3 separate regions of the Homo sapiens genome follow, and regions 2 and 3 are each linked to region 1. Evidence: fine-mapped expression QTL. A gene starts in region 1. Each other region holds a variant in brackets. All regions are shown on one strand. Distances are between the middles of the regions.

Evidence for each region. PIP is the estimated chance that this variant, and not a neighbour inherited with it, causes the effect.
Region 2: its variant is the best candidate, but not a certain one, in a credible set for the expression of HNMT in skeletal muscle (FUSION, PIP 0.62).
Region 3: its variant is the best candidate, but not a certain one, in a credible set for the expression of HNMT in lung (TOPMed, PIP 0.53).

The regions. Positions count from the first base shown.
Region 1 is chr2:137,963,286-137,966,053 of GRCh38, forward strand. HNMT (histamine N-methyltransferase) reads left to right here and starts at 1,188. Exons shown (of 6, transcript NM_006895.3): 1 at 1,188-1,343. The coding sequence starts at 1,207.
Region 2 is chr2:138,045,951-138,048,718 of GRCh38, forward strand. It overlaps LOC105373636 (a long non-coding RNA gene), which reads right to left. Exons shown (of 3, transcript XR_923367.2): 3 at 1-860. Among named protein-coding and RNA genes, the nearest start is that of LINC01832, 55 kb to the right of the region's middle. The variant C/CA (reference allele first, on the strand shown) is at 1,514.
Region 3 is chr2:138,008,596-138,011,363 of GRCh38, forward strand. The region is part of intron 5 of HNMT (histamine N-methyltransferase); the gene reads left to right. The region is part of intron 2 of LOC107985948 (a long non-coding RNA gene); the gene reads right to left. Among named protein-coding and RNA genes, the nearest start is that of HNMT, 46 kb to the left of the region's middle. The variant T/G (reference allele first, on the strand shown) is at 1,362.

The DNA.
Region 1 (2,768 bases):
GTGGCGGGTGCCTGTAATCCCAGTTATTCGGGAGGCTAAGACAGGAGAATCACTTGAGTCCAGGAAGCGGAGGTTGCAGTGAGTGGAGATCGCACCATTGCACTCCAGGCTGGGCGACAGAGCGATACTCTGTCTCAAAAAAAAAAAGAGAGTTGGGAAGTGTTTTGAATGCTTAGAGGGCAGCTTGGGAACTCAATTAGAAGAAGGGACGGTTTAAGCAGACATATTTCTAAGAGACTTATATGAGTTAACTCATTTGATCCTCAGCACTCCTCCATGAGTTGGATGCTATTATTAACAACCCAATATTAGATAAAGGATGACCTTCTTAAAGACCTCTTCCCAGGAAAAAGACTGTGTGTGGGTACTCTGAAGCTTTGGCTCTTCTGGTGGGGACACCACTGGGTTTCCAAAGGCTCATCCAGCCAAGCGAAGTATCTATGACCTCGTCGTGTTCAGCGCGCTTAGGGAAGGATTCTATGGACTGCACTTTTACCCTGGTGTCCTGCATTCTTGCTCCAAGACTTCTCTTACCACTCTCATTCCCCTAAATGCAGCTTCTGACACCTTCTAGCTACGAGTTCTTGGGCTCCTCCTTCGTGACTTCCTTTTAAGATAATTTCTGAGTTACAACAAATCAGCATTTGAAGAAATGCAGCAGATAAGTTGAAAATTCAAGTGCTGAGGAATGTAAAGGCCCAAAACAATCCCGTAGAAAGCACAGAGGCAGATGACAGTCTTCCGTTAAAGATTTCACTGCTGTAGATTTCTGAGAGTGCTGTGTAGCTGTCCTCTTTATCCTGGTGTTTGCCACTTCGAACAGTCACTTTCCCACTTGGAACTTACTTGTGGCTTTGCTGACAAAACAGGAAGTGATTTGAATACAGTTTGTTTTTATGACCTTTCAACCTCAGGAATTTGAAAAGTTTTAGCAGTGGATTTACAGCCTTGCTTAATACTTCTATTTCTTACAAAACAACCGTATAGGGGTTAAAGTATCAGTGCAAAGTCCCGTTCAAATATTGACTCAGTAATGAGCTCTACAAGCCAGCCTTTGTGGCATGTTAAATTCAAAACAAGCTTAGCATTTTTTTTTTTTTTTTTGGATAGAAACTGGTGGGGGTGGGGAAAGAAAGAGGGAACTGGGAAGAGAAGGAGGGGAACTTAAACCTTGCTTCCTGCTCTGTCTTTCTCAGAAAACCAAATATGGCATCTTCCATGAGGAGCTTGTTTTCTGACCACGGGAAATATGTTGAATCTTTCCGGAGGTTTCTCAACCATTCCACGGAACACCAGTGCATGCAGGAATTCATGGACAAGAAGCTGCCAGGCATAATAGGAAGGTAACAAAAGGGACGTTGTTGTCAAAGGGACAAGCCTCAGACTGGCTGTGCGTCAGTGATAGATGGGTCTCGCTCAGCCTCGCAGGCTGGGCACAGGGATAAGGGCGAATTACTGATAGCAGCTCCCCGTCGTCCCCTCCTCGCTGCCCTGCCCTGCCTTTCTCCTGCAGTGCTTTGGTTCCACGTTTGCTTTGAACACTCAAAGGCTCCCATTTGTGTTGTATTTCCAGCTGCATAGAGATAAGCGTTAACCATTTGAAGGCACAAATCCATGTTCATTTGGGAAAAGATAAGATGCTAATCTTCGAACTCAGATTTTTCAGCCCTCCTCCAAATTTTACATCCCAAAAAAGTCCCAAAGGGAGTCTGGTATGCTTTTCATTAGAATCAAATATAAATAATTGCCAAAGTACGATTTGCCCTGAGGATTGAGTGCCTCAGTTCTCATAATATCCATTTAAATTAATTTTCCTTATCCATTGTTATAGTTATCACTCTCTTCCTCAAAATTGTCTTTTTCTTTCAGCTTAATATTAGCAATGTGTTCCTTAAAAAAAGAACCATTTTCCCATTATCAGTGAAACTCACTGGTTCCTATCCTTCTTGCAGAGTTCTTTTTTTTGGGTGATTAATGTGTTCAATTTGTGCCAGAGCTGATAAGCATTATGAGAGTAACAGATTCCACATGCTAAAGATAATCAAATCACCTATCTGGGGGTGATTTGCTGTAACTCATTCTACTTCAGGAAATAATAATGGAAAACTGGGAAGAAATGACTATGGATCCAATTTGCAAACAGCAAAGGAAAGTGGTATTTTATCTTTTGCTGAATTTCTCTATTGCAGGCCTGAAATTCTTTCACCAGGGCAGTACCTATGTCTGACCAGAGCAGGCATTATTAGATGTACATAAAATTTTATTTCCTTTTCTATTTAACATGATTCAGATTTTAAATGTTAGCTTTCAAAAAATAGGATATTATATATTAAAAATTAATATGTAATAGGATAAGGATGCAAACATCAAAGCAAATAGCAAATATAGAGAACTTCTTACCTAGGAACTAATTATAGTTAACCTCTTTGGGTTTCTTTGCTCATTTCTAAAGTTAAAGGTAATGAGTTAATTTCTCAATTCTTTTTCAGTACTAAAAGTATTTGCTCATGTCTGTAGCTTACCAGATCCTTGGTTTTCTTCAGCCATACACAGTTTGGTTTGAAGAGGTACCGTGGATGGAGATAACATAATCGATGATGAATGACCCCTTCCTTATCTTCAAAGTTTAAATCTAACTGGAAATATTATAAAATCTGTGAAAGACTGAAGAATTTTTAAGGGCACACTGTTTGTCTTATAACAGTAGTATATAGTTAGGAATGATCAGATTCAGTGTCATTTATTTTTTTCCTGAAGGTAATGTTTGA
Region 2 (2,768 bases), 83 kb after region 1:
GATGCCTCGTTAAGATGGATTTTAGTAGATCACAATCTAATATACTACTATATTGAAGACACTTTTTTAAAAAAGCAAAAATAAATCAATAAAATGTTAAAAGACCACTGATGAAATCATGGAGTGGATTAATTAGGGTGTAATATTCAGATCATATTCTTGAGTTGGGCATTTTTTAAAATGTTGTTTTTCCTGTATTCATGTTTCTAGGGCGTTGGCTCTGACTTTAATCTGTCAGGATTCAAACCCTAACAGATCCTCATTCGAACATTTACCATGTGACTCAGGACAAGTTATTAACCTAAATTCCAATTTCCTCACCTATAAAATGGGAATAATGAGAACACTGATCCCAGAGAGCCACTATGGTGATTCCATGAGCGATGTGGGTGAAGTGCTGGGTATGGTGTTTGGCATAGAGCGAGTGCTAAATAAATAGTTTTAAACAACTGCTAGTGAAGGAGAGAAAAAGAGAACCTGAGTCATTAAGGTGATGTGTGAGTAGGATGCAAGCCAGGACAGAAGGTTACAGGGCCATATGTGGGTACAAATGGCCATGCTGAAGTAGGGACTCTGATATATTCCTCATTCTTACTCGGGGCAGTGATGAAAAAGGGAGAGCCTTGTTCAAAAAGCTGGACAACAGTGTCATTACAGGGGAAAGCATTTACCTTTTTTCCATGTACATCCTTTGTTCAACCACATGCTTCAAGGTTGCACATTCAAAACATACCTTCAAAGATTACAGCTTTTAGAGTTTCAAGACAGCAACAGATGAGCATTCAACCATGTGGGGGTTCTTCATAGGCCCTGTTTTCCTTGTTCTACTGTAATCCATAAATGGTTGGAAATGCAGACCACTGAAGAGAATTAATTAGGACTTTTCAGATTTAATGGGAACAATTCAAAGAGTCTAAGTTTCTTTTCCATCCAGCGTGAGTTTCCTATTTAGTGAAGTAAAGCTCAACTTTTATCAATAGTTTCATTCTCTTGTGGTATGTAAAACCTACACACACTCAGAGGCACCCAGAGGAAACTACACTCTGAGTTATTAGTAAATTCTCTCCAAGTGAAGCTGCCAAACACAGAAGCTTAAAACTAGATACAGCTTCTCAGGAAGCAGATCAAGCCCAGACTCTGCCACTGAGATTGAATTAACAGGAGCTCACAGGGCTCTCTTGGATAAGCCACATGGACCCAGGGTTGTTAATTTGGGAGGTTTATTAAATAGCGGATTAGGATTGAAAGCGAATGCATCAAAATGTAAGAAGCCCTAGTTTGTTGAAATGAGAAAATTGATACTGAATGAGGTTATCTCTTGAATCTGGGCAGTCTTGTTTTGGCTACCCCACTGCTCAACTCCTAATTAGTAGGGCAGAAAAAACAAGTCCACGTAGGCTAAATGGCCAAGAATAGATGAAAATCAGCTAATAATATAGTAATTAGGAACAAAGCCAAAGCAGGACCTGCAGATGCCCAAAGTTGAAGAGATGCAAAGAAAAGTGTTGCTATC[C/CA]AAAAAAAAAAAAAAAAAAAAAAAGTACTTGTCAGAACAAGTTTTTCAACAGCATATACTTTTAGACTAAGATTGAGGATGAAGGTGACAGGAAAATGATTAGCCCCATAGTTAGGATTACTTATATTTAGAAAAATATTTGCAAAGCTTTCCTTCTCCTTTCATATCATAGCGAACACTGAAATTGTGTTGTTTTCCAACATAGCTGCTAATATTTGCAAAGTAATAATTTTGCAAAGGAAACAGCTTGAAATAAAGCATGCCTGATGCTTAGGAAGAAAGCAAAGAATGCTATCTTTGAGTAGTTACTATAGGTAGCTTTTGATCAGAACGAAGTGGCACAGAAACATCCGATTCCAGTCTCACTGGTGCTGTTTACTCCATGTGACCATTATCAGGTCTCACTTCTGCACTGGCTTTAGGATACTTCTACATCATATGAAAGTGCTGTACAATTTCCAAGTTCCTTCTAAGTCAAACATTCTGTTATTCTTCCCTCCAAAAGATCCTTCAAGACAATGGAAGACTAAATAGCAACTAGAACTTGCTTTGAAGTAAGGCTGACATTATCTGCAAACAGATTAAATCACTATGCTTATATTTTATACTGTTATGTATTTTCCCATTGCAGCTTCACAGTCTTCCCCAGACCTTATCTGTGTATATAGGCACACATGCATAACTGCCTTAACAGTAAAAACATGGTCAAAAATGTAAAAGTTCAGGATGCAAGTTTGATGACACACTTTATTTCTCCAAATTGAAATAAAACTAGATCAATCCCCTGGAAGAAGTTTAGAAAAGTGTTAGCCATCCTCTTCCCCTTTGATTTCCATGTCCAAAGATGGAGAAGCTGCCTTTCTAATCCTTCTGTTTCAGTTTCTTTAGCCAATGGGATTTTATTACCAAAAAATGTCACTGAAGAATCTGGCTGATAATGTCCAGCACTGCAGTTTTTCACTAGACCAATAATATAGTTTGGCTGTGTCCTCACCCAAATCTCATCTTGAACTGTAACTCCCATAATCCCTACATGTCCTGGGAGGGACCTGGTGGGAGGTCATTGAATCATGGGGGCAGGTTTTTCTCATGCTATTGTCATGATAGTGAATAAGTCTCATGAGATCTGATGGTTTTATAAAGGGGAGTTCCCCTACACAAGCTCTCTTGCCTGCCACCACATAGGAAGTGACTTTGCTCCTCATTTGTCTTCAGCTATGATTGTGAGGCCTCCCCAGCCATGTGGAACTGTGAG
Region 3 (2,768 bases), 45 kb after region 1:
GAATAGAGAGACCAGAAATAAGGCCGCACACCTACGACCATCTGATCTTTGACAAAGCTGACAAAAACAAGCAATGGGGAAAAGACTTCCTATTCAATAAATGGTGGTGGGATAACTGGCTAGCCATATGCAGAAGACTGAAGCCAGTCTCCTTCCTTATACTATATACAAAAATCAACTCAATGTGGCTTAAAGACTACCTAAAACTATAAAAACCTGGAAGACAACCTAGGCAATACCATCCTGCACATAGGAACAGGCAAAGATTCTGTGACAAAGACACTAAAATCAATAAAAACATTGGCAAATGGCATCTCATTAAACTTAAGAGCTTCTGTACAGCAAAAGAAACTATCAATAGAATAAACAGACAACCTACGGAATGGTAGAAAATATTTGCATAGTATGCATTTGACAAAGGTCTAATATCCATCATCTATAAGGAACTTAAATTTACAAGAGAGAAACAACCCCATTAAAACGTGGGCAAAGGACATGAATAAACAATTCTCAAAAGAAGACAGAGATGTGGCCAAGAAGCATTTGAAAAAAAGCTCAACATCACTGATCATTAGTGAAATGAAAATCAAAACCACAATGAGATACCATCTCATACCAGTCAGAATGACTATTTATTAAAAAGACAAAAAATAACAGATGCTGATGAGGTTGTGGAGTAAAAGGAACACATACATTGTTGGTGAGAATGTAAAGTAGTTCAACCACTGTGGAAAGCAGTATGGCAATTTCTTAGAGAGCTAAAAGCAGAACTACCAGTTGACCCAGCAACCCTCTTATAGAGTAGTTTAAATCCCTTTTGTTCTATTTCTATCACCTAGATAAACCTGTGCACACATGAACTTGTCTTAACAACAACACATTTCCCTGAGATAAATTGTTTTGCCCCCCTCAGTGTATGATGAGGGTGATGGTAGTTTCCTATTTTAAAAAAATAGCAATAGTTGCTTTGTTGTATTAACATACCCAATAGAAATATATTGGTCAGCTTTTGGAAAAATAGATCAAGTCTAGTTTCCAACATTGGAAACAAATTTGATCACAAGAAATTTCCAATCAGACATTTTCATATTGATGTCAGTGAACACACATAGGAATGATCCACAAAATTACTACTCATTGTTTTCTTTCAATGATGTAGCTTCAAATCCCTATCTGCTAGACTAGTCAGTGGAAAGAAAACAAGTTTGAGAAACCTCATCAGCCGAGGTGTTCCATCTACATCCCTCCTTACCCCTGTTTAGGAACCATTGCCTAGCTTGCCTTCTCCACCAGAGCTATAATTCTTTAAACCCCATTTTTCATTTACTCAACAGATTGAAACATTTCCTAAAGTTGAATAT[T/G]GACCCAGAACTTGGAATGTCTATACCACATTGGTTTACACTAAGTTCTGTTTTTATTAAGATTCTTTGGGTCACTTTCTTAATGGAATTTGCTTCATAATTACCTAAAAGGGAAGATGCTTCTGTGTATGTTCATTTGTTTCAGGGTAATATTGTCATCCATAGCTGCTCTCCAATGCACAAAACTGAGTACTCATGGTATATAGGGAGGCATATAGGGACATTCATCTCTGTTCCTACATCTTTGTAAAGACTTTGGCACAGAGACAATACTTAGTAAATATGTTTTAATTGAACTGAATAATTGTTTATTATTTCTGCCTTATGATATCAGAACTACAATAAGCTCTGAATATACATCCAAAAAAAGAGAATATATTTCAGCTAAAACTGACTTGACGAAATCAGAGAACACAGGAAGTTCTGGATATTTGCAGATGAAGTTTAATAAATAGGAATAAAAGGCTCAATAAAAAAGACACACGCACACACACACACACACACACACACACACACACACACACACAGCAAATGGAAGCAGCCAGACAAAAGCAATAAAGAACAAACAACTAAAACTATTTGTGTATTTTTAGGGAAAGAAAAAGAAATTGAAATCAGAATTAAATGACAACATTTACTGGTCAGCTTATGGAAATATATGTTGCTTGATGGAAATCAACCTTTCCTCTGTGTTTCTAAATATCCATTACAGAATTACCCTAACTCAAGAGACTGTCATTTAGTGATAACTAGTAGAAGTTCCTGATAATGGAGATGAAAGAAATTTGATTTGGGGATAAAAAAGAAGAGATATAAGAACAAGAGAGTTGGATTTCTTTAAAAAATGTGGAGTATCCCACACTAAAATGGTATCAAAGAAAAGTTTTTTTCTGCAAATGTGATAGCCAAGCATCAATTGGGAGGGTTGCTGTTTAAAAGGCAGCCTGTCTGGTTAAGGGAGATGAGCCAGAAGGAGATCACTGAAGCTTTCTGTCTGTCCTCTCCTTACCTGAGTAAGGAAGGAGGAAAATCATTGTGTGTTATTTTTAGTGCAGTGAGAAAAAGAAAATCTGGCTTACATCATGTTGAAAACAAAAGTAACACCATATGTTGTGCCCACCGAGAGCCATTATGATAATGCATTAGTCGGGAAGTGCATAATTGCTCAGCTCAGAAATGGCACCGAGTCACAGCACTGACACCAGCAAATTTTTTGCAATTAGTGTTTGGTTCTTTTTTCTCTGCCAGGTTAAAAATAATAATAATGATGATAACAGAGCCTCTCTTCAACCACTGAAATGCTGATTTTCTTGTAATGTCTTGTTTGCCGGCAAACTCTTATTTAGGAAGACAATCCACTGTCTTTGGAATAAAAGATTTTTAAATAAATACTCACAACCCTCATTT